Homo sapiens: one gene and its partners. The protein of the gene in region 2 interacts with the protein of the main gene of each other region in a biochemical or structural test. Each region holds a gene or a part of one and is shown on either strand. Other genes may lie near its edges.

Region 1 (3,772 bases), on a different chromosome or scaffold from region 2:
ATATGTCTTAGTTCACCCAGTAGTTATATTAATTGAAAAGATTGAGCCCATGGGTTCAATGGGGTTTTTATGAGTTGAATCAGTTTAAGTGCGTCAGGTAACTTTACTATTGAAGAAAATCACTTAAATGTATATTTTTATGTAATTCTGGATTTTTATAGCTAGATTTGCTTTAATTTTGGTACATCTAGGCTTAACAAATTGAAAAATTGTATTTCCTTGTGACAGAGTTTATCCTTATAGTGTAAAATATATTACAGAAATGAATGGAAGTCTGCAAGTAAAATTCCTTAAGCCAAGAGGATCTTGTTTATAATTGTCTACTTTAAATTTATCTTGCCCTTTTCTGTATAAAAACATAGTATATCCATATTATTTCAACCTTCTCAGGCCTGCTCCTTTTCTTCAGAGGATTTGTTAATTATCTAAAAGTCAGAAACATGTCTGAAAGTATGGCAGCTGCTCATAGAACAAGGTATTTCTTCTTATTGTAGAGGTAAGAAATATTAATCTGTGAACTCTGCCTATTCCCTTTATGTATTCAAATTTGCCAGATACATATTAAATGCCTAATGTGTATTCATGATTTTTACTGTTAGCATATTTAATATTTTTTAATACTGCTAACAGTCAGCTTATTGAAATTTGATAAGTCATAGACCTTTTTAGATAACTTTTAGATTTTTAAAATTGAATTTCATAAATTTTAATTTTTAAAATACATAGCGAGTGAACTGAAATTTTGAATCAGACTTTTAAAACTTCTCTTTAAAGATTAACCATAGAATGTATATGAAGTAACCACCAGCACAAAATTTGAAGGCTTGAAAAAACAAAATATGACATAGTACTTAGACCGAAGGAATGAGCATTTTTGTCTAAAACAATATGAAATTCACATAGACATCTGGTGGAGAAAAAAATCTGATTGAAAAACAATTTGTCTTGCAGTCCTTTTAACAGTCTGGATTAAGGAATAAAAGTCATGTGAAGAAAATAGTTCTGTTATTGTTTTCTTAATGTGTGCTGATTTTTTATCAACTATGAAGGCTACAACTTGAATAAGTAGGAATATGAAGAAATGAGTAGAAGTTGTCTTACTGGTTATCCAGTGAATTTCTGGAGGTCGTGGGTATAGTAATAGTATTTATTTATTGTTCAGCGGGAGTATCTTCACATAAAGTAACCTCATACTCCCTATTCTACTTTTTAAAGCAAGTACCATGTACTTTATACCTATAAATAAGGTAAACTTATAAAGCATTTGAACTCTATTACCAAAATGTCTACTAGTACTTAACTTCTGAATGCAGGACTATAAGGAACAAAGTGTTTCAAGTTTATTAAGTATTCTTTTTTCAAATAAATAAACTGCATGCTTTGTGATTTGGTTGCTTACATTTTATCATTTATATAAGTTATACATAAGCTTATATAATTTACTTATTTCTGCTAGAGTACTATGAATACATTTGTATTTCTAGATCATGTTAAAGTATCATTTTAAGTGTTCTACTAAAGTCTCCCCCAACCACTCCCAAAGAAGTCGCTTTTTTATTTTAACAAGCAAAATATCTTTGCAGACACTGGCATTAAGAATTTGTCAGTATTAATAATAAGATTAAAAGGCAAAGTAATTTTGCTGTTTTACTAATTTGTGTGATTGTCTTCTATGCATTTTGAAGAGTCTAAAATACAATGCAAATATTTTCTAGATGAAAATCTGCTATAGAAGCCTTACACTTTAGAATGTATTCTGATATGTAGACTTTAATGAAGAGAATATTATATACTTAATATAATTCTTCTATAAAATGTGTTGTATTATACTATGATTTAGATAAAGACAACTTAATACATTTTAAGACTAATTCCTTCTTTGTCTCCAGACTGCATCAACCCGACATTCCTTTCTTATACCAATGTGAAATTTCCAGATCATCTGTAAACCTACAACTTTAATAGAAGACTACTAATAACAGAAGACAAATTAGTGAAGAAAAGACGGAGTTTCGAAATTGAATGGCAGGGTGGTTTTTGCTTACAAGCCATTTCTGTTCATTCTTTAAGTATCTATATTTCATTTGTTTTGCACATATGCATATGTGCCCATTTAAGATATTTGCATATACTTGATAGAAACCATAAAGTTGTAGCAGTTAAGTCCAGTCACATTTGGTTAATCAGTGTTTGATATAATTGAAAGAGTTGAGTGGATAAACAGTCTTCCAGCTTGTAAATGCCATTGACTTCTGACCTGACATTTAGTATAATAAAAATGAAATTCTTAACCATGTCAAATGATTTAGTTTCTGGCTCTTAGACTCATCTGGCAGTTCTACACATGAAACATCTTTTGTTATATAAGGTGTATTGAAACCTGCAGTGCTGATTATTAGAAAGGATTTGTCAGATTTTTGAACATGATATTTACATTATTATTTAGGAAAACTCTTCCTGTAAATAACCATGCATAACTTACTTTCTGCAATGTTTTCTTAGAAATTGTGTCCAGATAGCTTTCACTAATTTTAAATTAAGTGAACTAAATATATATGTGTATATGTATACACATATATATACACACACACATATATATATTTAGAAACGTGAGTGTTAAAGATAGAATTTGTTTTAGGACAAATTTTAAGAAAATGTGGGAATACCAAATGTCCTTTATAAGAAAAATAAATTTTATTTTAAGGGACATACTAGTTTTAGGGATTTTCAGATGGGAAGCTGCATTTTTAGGATTGCCCATCTTAAGAGATCTTGCAGGAAGAGATTGTATTAGATATTATATTTATTTCATTTAAGATAATTTTCAAAGTTAATTTTCTAAATAAGATAATTCTCATTTGTGTTTGTCTTTTAAAAGGCCAATAAAATATCTTTCAGTATCATTGTAATAATTTTTTAGAGTTTAATTTGTAAAGCTTAGCAAATAAAATCTTGTACTATGAATAGCTTCTTGCTTTATGACTTTAGGATTAACTTGTAAAAAACATATCCTGAACTGAGATATGCAAAATACTCATTTTCAAGTTATGGAAATGTGTTTGTGGCATATAGGACTGTGGGGTCTGTGTGTGTAGTGAGAGTGTGTAGCCACTATTATAACTGGAATTTAATTTACATTCATAAACTACTATATTTCCCATCTTGCAAATCATTTTATGTCTCATCTGTTTTTCCTTTCGGTTATATCTTTGGTTTTGAATACCAACATTTAAAATGATGGTATTTTATCTTTTAAACTTAAAAATTATTTAATACAGCTATATGGACCTTATAAAATTGATTTCTTATTTATTATTAGACATTACTACTAAAAGGTACATCTAACTATTCAGGGACATTTTTCCATTTCCAAAAAATAAAATTTATTATGCTTTATAACCTCTTCTGTATTTTCTAATTTTTTCATTGTCTTTGATAAATAAAACAGTTTTGTTTTGCTAATATAGCCTATTTTTTGTTTTGTCTCATTCAGTTTACTTTCCTGCGTAGAATTTTTATTGTTATATTAAAATTTTTATTGTTGTATTAAAGTACCTGTGTTACACCCCTTGAAGTAAGACAGTAGCATGGGGTAAAGAAAAAATATTTAGTTTAGTTGCCTAATTTGGAAGTTAATTAAAATTAAACTGTACTAATAACATATTCAAACTCATGCTGGATCTCTTTCATATTAATTTCTTATAGACCTGTACTTTATTCTTTCAATAATTTTTAAATGAAATTAAGCTTTGCTACATGGTAATTAAATAAT
Region 2 (3,772 bases):
TACACGTGTGAGCTGCCGTGCCCAGCCAGTTCTTTTTTCAAAAAATGATTTTTCACCCCAAATATTTCCAAATCCTGGGCATTGTGCACATTGGCTGAGGGGTCTTGGGAGGCACATGGATCTGGGGCTCAGAGCAGCTTTGCCACCAGCGAGGGGCCCAATCACCTTCTCCAAGCCTCAGGGGCCATGGTAGCACATCACATGCAGCACACCACGCATATCACAAAACATTCTTTTATGAGATTGTATGTTTATCAGGTGTCAGATTATATACATAATCTGACTATATAATCTTTCTCTACAGACAGATTATAGAAAGAGATGTAGGCATAGATGGAGATAGAGATATATAACATCAGACACTGGGGCTGATTAGAAATATTTTTCCTATTTTGCAGCAATGTTAATTCATTAATCTCAGTGTCTAGAGCAGCTGGAAGATGAAATGCTGGCACTAAAGGGATTTCCTGGGACAGCCGGTCCACTGTGCAGGCAGACACCACCCAAAGGCTTTCAGCTGCCAACTGGTCCCTGCCCCAGTTTCTCTGTGGCTCATCCCCACATGAAACAGTAGTGATGGGAGCACGCAGACTGTGTGGCTGCTCTGTCCAAAAGCCTTCCCTGGTTTGCATCTCAGCAGAGTAAGAGGGGCTGCTCTTACATGGCCAGTAAGTCTCTCCCTGAGCCACTCTAACCCCCAGCTACATAGCCTTCTTTCTCATCCATCGACTGTCTAGAGATCAAATGGCCTAGGTGCGTCATTCATTCATTCATTCATTCACCCATCCATCCATCAAATACTCACAGAGGCCCAAACCACGCTGGCCTCCTGCTCCTGTTGGCCAAGCCCATGCTCTGGCTGCTCTCCCCATGGGGACATGCAGACCTCAGAGAGCCCAAGACTCCCTCCCTCTGTGAGTCCCTGCTGCTGCCAGGACCATGGAATAAAACCAGCAGCTCCCCACCCCCTTCTGTGAGTACTCGCCAATCCCTAAGCCACTCCACGCAGGCTCCACACTACTCTCACCACCCTACAGGATGGCTGTGTGTTTGATAAACATCAGTCTCTCCCCACTACAATATTCACTCTCAAGGACATGGGCAGATACCATGGCATCCTAGCAGCTGAGAGTGCCTAGCATACTCAAATATTTTTTGAATAGGAGAAAGATTTAAACATTAAAAATTTAATTTTAAATTCCCCTCATGCAAATATTTTGTTAATAGTCAAACATAAATGAAAATATGAAGGCTCTGGGAGAAATCCCTCTTTTTTTTTTTTTTTTTTTTTTTTTTTTGAGACAGAGTCTCACTCTGTCGCCATGGCTAGAGTGCAGGGGTGCAGTCTCGGCTCACTGCAACCTGTGCTTCCCAGGTTGAAGTGATTCTCCTGCCTCAGCCTCCCAAGTAGGTGGGATTACAGATGCCCACCACTACGCCCAGCTAATTTTTTGTATTTTTAGTAATGACGGGGTTTCACCATGTTGGCCAGGCTGGTCTCGAACTCCTGACCTCGTGATTCACCCACCTCAGCCTCCCAAAGTGCTGGGATTACAGGTGTAAGCCACTGCACCTGGCCGAAATCCCTCTTCTTAACCATGCCAGCACAGACCATGGAAAAATGGAGGGATGGTCAGAATCTGGCTCTGCAGGCTTCAGGTGTTAGGAATCTGGAAATAAATACTGAATGATGCCCTCACTGATACCAGTATGTTAAAGAGCAGAAGGGCCTCCCACTGATAAACAAAGGTGGTTATTTCTTGAAGAGAGAGAGACTCCAGGGCACTTATTACAAAACCAAGCATCGGAAATCCTTGTCTCCATGTGGGTTTCCTCCTTCCAGTCAGGGGGACTGCCTTGGAGGAGCCCCTGTGTCTATCCATCCTCATCTCGACACCAACAACCATGCCCGGAACATTCTAGTATGTGGTGGAATTAATCAGTGCAGAACAAGAACACACACTCAAAATAAGGAGGCAAAGAAGTGTCTAAGCACTCTTAGAACAATTTATGCTAAAGATAGTGAAAATAAAAATCAAGTCTTTTTTTTGTTTCGAGATGGAGTCTCACTCTGTCGTGTAGGCTGGAGTGGAATGGCGCGATCTCAGCTCACTGCAACCTCCACCTCCCGGGTTCAAGCAATTCTCCTGTCTCAGCCTCCCGAGTAGCTGGGATTACAGGCATGCGTCACCATGCCTGGCTAATTTTGTAATTTTAGTAGAGACGGGGTTTCTCCATGTTGGTCAGTCTGGTCTCCAACTCCCGACCTCAGGTGATCCACCTGCCTCGGCCTCCCAAAGTGCTGGGATTACAGGCGTGAGCCACCATGCCCAGCCCGTGAAAATCAAGTTCTGGCTCAAAGCACTTATTCTTTGCTATCGGGTAGATGAAGTAATTATTACTTTTTAATGCCTTCATGCAACCTGACTTTTTCTCATTTATACAGCTTGATTGTAAATAGCTAAGTAAACCATACCTGGGTAGGGAATTTTCCCATAGGTGACAATTTCGTATAGGAGGATTCCAAAGGACCACACATCAGACTTAATAGTGAAACATCCAAAGTTGATTGCTTCTGGAGCCGTCCACTTAATAGGGAACTTAGCACCTAAGGAAGAAGATATGTGGTTCTTACTTGGGTATTTAAACTTAAACAAAAAAGTCATGAACATGTGACCCCATACTTTCTTTTCTTTTCTTTTTTTGAGGCGGAGTTTCACTCTTGTCACCCAGGCTGGAATGTAATGATGCGATCTCGGCTCACTGCAACCTTCACCTCCCAGGTTCAAAATAATAAAATAATAATAATCCTTGTTCAACAATGCTTAGGAATTTCAAGAAAGTGCTTGTCTCTTCCAGAAGACAGTGAGCACTGCAAAAATATTTGCTCAGCTCTCGTGGGTGAGAGCATAAGAATCCTCAGTCATAACCACGTGGGCAATCCTAGCCCAAGAAAGGCCCTGCAGTCCCGACCATGCTTGGCCCCCTGACAATGTGCCACAGGCTGGGGAACTTAGGCCTCTCTGTGCATTTTTGGTTCATATATATAATACAGAATGTGGGAAAATAAAGAAGTAGATTTTTTGCATTATATTTAGTTCTGTGTGTATGGTAATGTTCATGTTTTAATTTGTAATTAAAAGGCTGGAATAAACAATATAGAATTAATGTTACAAATATTTTCTCCACAGCCCCGTATATTATATTCATTGTTTGAGTGAAAACTTTAACAATACAAAATAAACAAGAATCATCTTGCTGAATCTATTTGTGTTTTGCATTGCTTAATTGAAATACAACTGATAGCATTTGTAAGCCTAACAAAAGTATCATGTGGAGTTAATCAAGAGAGTACCTTCTAGAAACTATTAGAATAGAACCATAAGCAGACAATTATGGTACAGCTTAAATGTTGTACCAAATAAGTTTTTCTTAATGGTGACTATTGTAATTGCTTTGTCAAAAACAGACAAAAACAAAATAAAACACAATAATAAAACATCTAAAGATCATTAGTGCAACATACCTTCCCTTGCTGTGTACTCATTATCTTCAATTACTCTAGCAAGGCCAAAATCTGCAATTTTGCACATGAGTGACTCGGAGACCAGAACATTAGCTGCTCGCAGGTCCCGGTGAATGTAGTTCTTCCGCTCGATGTATGCCATTCCCTCTGCAATCTGAAAACAGAAATAGGCTCCCATTTTCATATGTAGGGTAGGTGACTGGAAAGTGCCATCAAGGAAAACCGGAAAACTTATGAATTCCTGAA
Region 3 (3,772 bases), on a different chromosome or scaffold from region 2:
GGGCAACAGAGTGAGACTGTCTCAAAAAAAAAGTTAAGCAAGGTATAAAACAACGTACGTGGTATGCTACCATTTCTTTTTTTTTTTTTAAGGCTATATACTGGTATGTGTGGTGTTTTTGTTTTGTTTTGTTTTGTTTTTTTGAGACAAGATCTCACTCTGTTATCCAGGCTGGAGTGCAGTGGTATGACGACAGCTTACTGCAGCCTTGACCTCCCAGGATCAAGTGATTCTCCCACCTCAGCCTCCCGAGTACCTGGGACTATAGGCATGCAACACCACACCTAGCCGATTTTTTATTTTTTGTAGACATGGGGGTCTCGCTATGTTGTCCAGGCTGGTGTTGAACTCCTGGGCTCAAGTGATCTGCCTGCCTTGGCCTTCCAAAGTGCTGGGACTACAGGCATGAGCTACTGTGCCTGGCCTGTATGTGCTTTTATATGCATATGTATCTTTGAAGAGGGATCCAAGAAACAGTGGCTTACCTTTAGGGAGAGAAATCAGACAGCTGAAGGGGAAGGGGTGGAGGTTTCTTATCCTTGTTAACCCTCTTTACGCTTCCCCAGCCATACCGTCCAGAATTGTGCTTCCTATAGAAATAGCTCCCTGAGGAGCCTTGCTCACTCCATAGCCACTGCAGCACAGAAAAGCAGCGAAGGACTGCCAAGTGGTCCCAAGCCATCCAGCATTATCTGGATGGAATTAAAGCCCCGCCCAACCCCACATTACCCATAATGTGCTAAAAGTCTTTTTTAAAAAATCTGTATTCTTTAACCTGGAGATTTTCTTTCTCTCTTTTTTTTTAACTGCTCCTTGTAGAGCAGGGTGTAGGAAGTGTGCCCAGAATAGCCAGAGAACTTATTTCTAAGAGAATTGATCCTAAAGAAGAAATTTCTAAATTGTCAAAAATGTATACCAAGGAGGTTCACCAGTGTTGTTGATAATCAGAAAAAAACGGGACTCAACTGCAATGATGCAGAGACAGTGATGGGGTAAGTAGACCAGGAAATCGGCTGTGGGGAAGAGGGAGACTGGGGCATGGGGACAGTAGGGAAAGATTTTTCACTGTGTATATACACATTTTCTTCTACCTTTCAAATTTTGTACCAAGTACAAAAAATTCCCCAAAATAATAAAATTAAAGTTACAAATAAGTATATAAGCTTTTCATTGGGAAATGAGATAAGCAGTTTATCAACAAAAAGAATGGTAAAATTCTACTTAATAAACATAAGACAATAGGTTTAGATGTATTTCTCAGAGTAGAAAATAATACACAAAGACAGACACCAAAATATTAACAGTGGTTACCTTTAGTTGACAGGATTTGGGTGATTTTATTGTTTTTTGATTCTCTGAATTTGAAAATGTTTCCACAATACCAAATAGGCCTCCAAAAAATAAAGGTAAAAAATAACACAACCTTTTATTTTTTATTTTCATTTTTTTTGAGATGGAGTTTCACTCGTCACCCAGGCTGGAGTGCAATGGTGTGATCTCGGCTCACTGCAACCTCCACCTCCCAGGTTCAAGTGATTCTCCTGCCTTGGCCTCCCAAGTAGCTGGGATTACAGGCATGCACTACAACGCCCAGCTAATTTTTGTATTTTTAGTAGAGATAGGGTTTCACCATGTTGGCCAGGCTGGTCCTCAACTCCTGACTTCAGGTGATCCATCCATCTTGGCCTCCCAAAGTGCTGGGATTACAGGCGTGAGCCACTGTGCCGGGCCCACCTTTTAAATGTCAACCTGAAACCAAAGCCCGTGAGAGGCCCTGCTATGCTCCAGGCCCCTCCCATGCTACAGACGGCATGCTAACAGTTGGGTGGGGGGTCCTGTAAATCTCACCAATGGGTTCTGCACTCCTTGACCCTGCTCTTAAGCACTGACCTTCAGGAGCTTGAAGCGAGAAGCTGGAACAATGAAGTGTCTATTCTGCTTCTTCTTGCAAATGCTGCAACTACAGAAAGACAGAGCAAATTCCAGATTGTGAGCAGCCACCTGCATCCTCTATGCCTGAGCGGCCCAGCCATGAGAGCCAGCCGACCCCACAGATGATGCCCCTTTCAGCACCATCCAGGGCCGAGGAGCTGGGGCAAAGGCCTGGATAGCAGTGCCTCTGGTTTGCAGGTACAGCAGAGCCCAGGGGGGTCCCAAGTCAGCAGTCGAGGTTCTGCAATGCTCAGAACACAGGACCAACAGACAGGTCTGTACTGCCCACCCCTCAGTTCTTTACAGTGAAGAGAAGCGCTGGACTTCAGAGACACTTAGGAAACAAATTTCAGACACTGCTACAACCTGATGTCTCTGAGACATCCACACCAAAAATGGACAAGGAAGTTTAGGTTTCCCTCTTTCTTCATCACCACGTCACAAGAAGTCCAGCTCCAAGTAAAACACGTCCCCAGAATTACCATCTCTGGAATTAAACTGAAGTCCCCTCTTTTCAGGCCACCTTTGAAAAAGTTCTAATTTAGCACAGAATCCTCTCACAAGTTATTCCACAGTGCTTCTTTTCCAATCTGGACTCTATTGTTAGTAGCCTGGTCAGTTCTCCATTTGAGTAATTCCATCGTATGTGCTTATTATTCATATATAATTCCGGTACCTAGGGGCAAAAAGGACTGGATGCTGTTAAATAATTAGCTGCATGCCAACTTTGGGTCCCAAAGCCAGAGCCTGTCGTCCCTGCTCCATCATAACGCCGGGGAAGGTGGTACAAATCAGGCCCTCCACAGCCAGCAGTGCCATCTGCCTCAACCGAAGAGCAGAGCGAGAGTGGAGGGCCTGGGGAGCCTCCAGGTGTATACACCCTTTACTAACATACCCTCCAACTCTCCCCAACTCTAGACTTCTATGAAGATTCTGCCCAAGGCTTTCCACTCAGTACCCAGCCAGGCACACCTGCAGCTAACCGCCCCCGGCTCCTCAGCAGTGTCAGTCTGAGGGTGATGCTGCCACAAGCCACAAGCCCTGAGGACCCTGCTCTGTGTCACCTGGGCCATGCTGTTGAAGCTCTGTGATGAGCCATATAAAAGGAACAAAAATAGAACAATGAACCTTTCTGTCCCCATCACCTGACTTCAACAGTTACCAGCCCAAGGCCAATGTTTCCTCTGTACCCCAACTCCCCAGATTATTTTGAAATATTGCATTTTAACTCTGAAATTCTTTTAAGCCAATTTAGGGAAAAAAAAATACTCACTTGCAGTCAAATATATGCAAGTCTGCTGAGGCCCAAACTTCAAAACGAACTGCTCCACAGTGGCAGCCTCCTGTGTGCTTCACCAGGCCCTGGTATTCACTAAATGAAACAAAAATCAGAAAGATAATAATTTCTGAATAGCTGCCTCCTGCTCTCTTTTTGTTGCTGAAAGAAAGACAGAAGATTAGACAAAAGTCTTTTCTACATGACAACCAGATGCATTTCTGCTTTTAAGGAGGCACTGTCAATTTCCTAAGTGAAGAATGGTTTCAGCACCTTCTTTGTCCATGAGCTCTCTTTTCACCAATTTCTTAAATTATATTAAGTTGCAAAATAAAACATTCCAAACATTTCGAAAATGTGAGGGATCCTAACCCACCACCAGACATTTTTATTTATATGTCAAATACTAAATTTTTTTTTTTTTTTTTGAGATGGAGTCTCAGTCTATTGCCCAGGCTGGAGTACGGTGGCACGATCTTGGCTCACTGCAACCTCTGCCACCTGGGTTGAAGCAATTCTCCAGCCTTAGCCTCCCAAGTAGCTGGGATTACAGGCGCCTGCCAC
Region 4 (3,772 bases), on a different chromosome or scaffold from region 2:
CCTGTAATCCCAGCTACTCGGGAGACTGAGGCAGAAGAATCACTTGAACTGGGGAGGCAGAAGTTTGCAGTGAGCCAAGATCACACCATTGCACTCCAGCCTGGGTGACAGACAGAGACACCATCTCGAAAAAAAAAAAAAAACCTGCTGAATCCTTAGCCCAAGTCTATTAGCTCCAAAGTCTCTGTCATAACCCACCTGCCTTGTACAAGAAGAAACAAGTGAATTTCTGTGTGCAGAGGGATTCTCTGCATTGAAAAGCGAAGGGAGAAAAAAGGAAAAGACTGAGAGACTTCACTATATAAAAATTTACAGTCCCTGAATGTCAAAAAAAAATCATAAAACTTAAAGGAAAATCACAATGAAAATATTTGCAACAAGTGTGATATAAACTTGTGCAAGTAGATAACAGAAAAACTATAGCTTCGATAGAAAAATGGCAAAGAGAATTGAACAGACCATTCACGAAAGAGGGATTATGAGGGTCAATAACTCTATCAAATAAGCTCAACGTGACCACAATCAAATGCAAATCAAAATGAACATTCACCACCTTCACCTTGCAATGTATTGTGTTTTGAAATGAAAATATTCAGAATAGGAAGGTTAGAATGAGGCGGGCACTCTCTTGTACAGCTTACTGGTGCATATATGGAAAAAAATTTCTGGAAAGCAATGTATCATTCTGTATCAAGAGCCTTAAAAACATTCCTGTCCCTCGATCTAGTAATTCCACTCCTCGGAATCTATAACCAGACATGTTTATAACATTTCTGCAAAAGACCTTCATCAGTCATATTTATAACAACAAAATGCTGTTGATAACTTAAATATCTGATAATAGAAGAATCATTTCATGAAGTGTCGCACATCATGTAATAGAATCCTGTACATCCATTAAATATGATCATTAGGAAGAAAACCTAACTAAATGGGAAAATGCTAATGCTGCTAGAAATCTCAGACTAAAATTAAAATATGATATTTAGGAAGAAATTCTAACTAAATGGGAAAATGCTAATGCTGCTAGAAATCTCAGACTAAAATTATACATATACATGTAATACATGTATATACAAAATGGAAATTACATACATACAGGGAGGTAGAGAGAAGAAGAAGATACACCAGTGAATTAACAATGGTTATTCTAGTGTCTCAGTGATGGGGTGGTTACTTTTCTGCTTTTTGCTTTGTACTTTCTGTGCTTTGTATAAATACCATTTTTTAAAGTGACTCTAAAGAACAGGACATTGCTGTTTATCAGATCTATTTGTTTCTCCATTGCCACTGACAGCTGTGTGGTCCAGCAAGCCTCTCTGCTCCGGGGAGGTCCCAAATGATCTCTCGGGGACAGCCCTCCGTGGGGTTGTTTACAGTAAGTATTGAACCCAAACTGTTAGGGGCCTGCACTTGTTAATATCGTGTTTTCCTAATGAAAGGGGACAACAGGAGCCTGAAGTGAGCAGGGGAGAGAATCTGGTCCCCACGTGCTGCCGCACCTGTCAAGCCTGAGTACCCCCGTCATGGAACATGCTGTGCTCCTTCCATCGTCCTCAGCCCCAGGACTTCAGTACCCTCTGCACCCACCCCCTCAATTGGAGCCCAGTGGTCTTCAGATGCCTGCCTTTCTTCCTGATGTCATGTTCATTGCCCCTGGTTTCACTCTGTGTGCCTCTGTGCCCCCATCCCTTCCTCCTGCTGGCTTCCAGGCTCCCAGCCCTGTCCCCAGCAGCCTCCGTCACAGGGGCATCACTCAGTCCTCTTCCTGCTTCCATCTCTCTGAGTGCTTCCTCCAAGGAGGCCTCAAGTGACAACTCAGCATCCCCCAGAGGCCTCCAGGAAGTTTCCTAAGCAATCCTCTGCCCCCATTCTCTTCTCTCCTCTGTATGGAATGTTCTTCACAGATGGGTCCTGTACTCCTCTGCTTCTGAGATGTCACTAGTCACTTTTAGCTCATAAAGACTAATTGCCAGCACGATTTTTTTTTTTAGACGGATTCTAGCTCTGTCGCCCAGGCTGGAGTGCAATGGCACGATCTCGGCTCACTGCAACCTCCACCTCCTGGGTTCAAGCAATTCTCCTGCCTCAGCCTCCCAAGTAGCTGGGATTACAGGCACCCGCCACCATGCCCAGCTAAATTTTTCGTATTTTTAGTAGAGACAGGGTTTCACTGTGTTGGCCAGGCTGGTCTCAAACTCCTGACCTCATGATCCTCTTGCCTCAGCCTCCCAAAGTACTGGGATTACAGGTGTGAGCCACCACACCTGATCACCAGCATGATTTTTTTTTTTTTTTTTGAGACAGAGTTTCACTCTTGTTGCCCAGGCTGGAGTGCAAGGGTGCCATCTCGGCTCACCACAACCTCTGCCTCCCAAGTTCAAGCAATTCTGCTGCCTCAGCCTCTCGAGTAGCTGGGATTACAGGCATATGCCACCATCGCAGGCTAATTTTGTATTTTTAGTAAAGATGGGGTTTCTCCATGTTGGTCATGCTGGTCTTGAACTCCCGACCTCAGGTGATCCACCCACCTCGGCCTCCCAAAGTGCTGGGATTACAGGCATGAGCCACCTTGCCCAGCACCAGCATGATTTTTATGTGTGCAAAGCATTCGGTGGGTGCTTACCACATGCCTGGACTTGGGCTGTAAATGTCACTCACATCTTTCCATTTTGTCCTCTTGATAACCCAAGGAAACAAGGAAAAGACAAACAACCCTGTTTTCTAAATGTACAAAGGATCTGAATTGACTTTTCTCCAAATACAAATGGCCATTAACCATGAGAAAAGACGTTTGGCATCATTAGCCATTAGAGAAATGCAAATTAAAACCACAATAAGACATCACTTCACACCCACTAGGATGGCTATAATAAAAAAGATAATAACAAGTGCTGGTAGGGAAGTGGAGACATTGGAACCCTCAGATGTTGCTAGTAGGAATGCAAAATGGTGGATCCACCAAGGAAAACAGTTTAGCTGTTCCTCAAAGTGTTAGACTTAAATGACCCAGCAATTCTGCTCCTAGATATAGACCCAAGAATATTGAAAATATATGTTTGCACAAAACCTTGTATATGAATGTTCATCACAGCATTATTCATTATAGCCCAAAAGTGGAAACAACCCAAATGCCTGTCAACTGATGAATGGATAAACAAAATGTGGTTCTTTCAATACAGTGGCTCATTAGTCAGCCCTGGAGAGGAGTGATTCATGCCACAACACAGATGAAGCTTGACAGCATTGTGCTCAGTGAAAGAAGCTGGCCCCAAAGTCCACATGTTGTATGTTTCCAGTTATGAAACATCCGGAAAAGATAAATCCATAGACAAAAAGTCATTTAGTTGCTGCCAGGGTTTGGGTGGAGAGGGAATAGGGAGTGACTGCTGTGGGTACAGGGTTTCTTTTCTTTTCGAGGTATTGAGAATGTCCTGGAATCAGACAGTGGTGTTGGTTTCACAACATTGTGAATGCACTAAAAGCACGATAAAGAATTGTATACCAGGGCCAGGTGCAGTGGCTCACGCCTGTAATCCCAGCACTTTGGGAGGCCTAGGCGGGCAGATCACCTGAGGTCAGGAGTTCGGGACCAGCCTAGCCAACATGGTGAAACCTCGTCTCTACTAAAAATACAAAAATTAGCTGGGTGTGATGGGAGGCACCTGTAATCCCAGCTATTTGGGAAGCTGAGGCAGAGGATTGCTTGAATTCAGGAAGCGGAGGTTACAGTGAGCCAAGAACACACCATTGCATTCCAGCCTGGGCAACA

Evidence for each region. Proteins that work in one complex are often made in the same cells at the same time.
Region 1: the proteins of LYN (region 2) and NDFIP2 form a complex in vitro, tested with the Homo sapiens proteins (one study listed by BioGRID).
Region 3: the proteins of LYN (region 2) and CENPV form a complex in vitro, tested with the Homo sapiens proteins (one study listed by BioGRID).
Region 4: the proteins of LYN (region 2) and INPP5D form a complex in vitro, tested with the Homo sapiens proteins (one study listed by BioGRID).

Annotation. Positions count from the first base shown.
Region 1 is NC_000013.11:79,550,627-79,554,398, forward strand, and holds part of NDFIP2 (NEDD4 family-interacting protein 2), read left to right. Parts: intron 1-390; coding exon 391-494; 3' UTR 495-496; intron 497-1,889; 3' UTR 1,890-3,772. UniProt on the Homo sapiens protein: Activates HECT domain-containing E3 ubiquitin-protein ligases, including ITCH, NEDD4, NEDD4L, SMURF2, WWP1 and WWP2, and consequently modulates the stability of their targets. As a result, may control many cellular processes.
Region 2 is NC_000008.11:55,998,254-56,002,025, reverse strand, and holds part of LYN (tyrosine-protein kinase Lyn), read right to left. Parts: intron 3,681-3,772; coding exon 3,527-3,680; intron 2,609-3,526; coding exon 2,477-2,608; intron 1-2,476. UniProt on the Homo sapiens protein: Non-receptor tyrosine-protein kinase that transmits signals from cell surface receptors and plays an important role in the regulation of innate and adaptive immune responses, hematopoiesis, responses to growth factors and cytokines, integrin signaling, but also responses to DNA damage and genotoxic agents.
Region 3 is NC_000017.11:16,346,726-16,350,497, forward strand, and holds part of CENPV (centromere protein V), read right to left. Parts: intron 3,305-3,772; coding exon 3,206-3,304; intron 1,961-3,205; coding exon 1,891-1,960; intron 1-1,890. UniProt on the Homo sapiens protein: Required for distribution of pericentromeric heterochromatin in interphase nuclei and for centromere formation and organization, chromosome alignment and cytokinesis.
Region 4 is NC_000002.12:233,066,814-233,070,585, reverse strand, and holds part of INPP5D (phosphatidylinositol 3,4,5-trisphosphate 5-phosphatase 1), read right to left. Parts: intron 1-3,772. UniProt on the Homo sapiens protein: Phosphatidylinositol (PtdIns) phosphatase that specifically hydrolyzes the 5-phosphate of phosphatidylinositol-3,4,5-trisphosphate (PtdIns(3,4,5)P3) to produce PtdIns(3,4)P2, thereby negatively regulating the PI3K (phosphoinositide 3-kinase) pathways.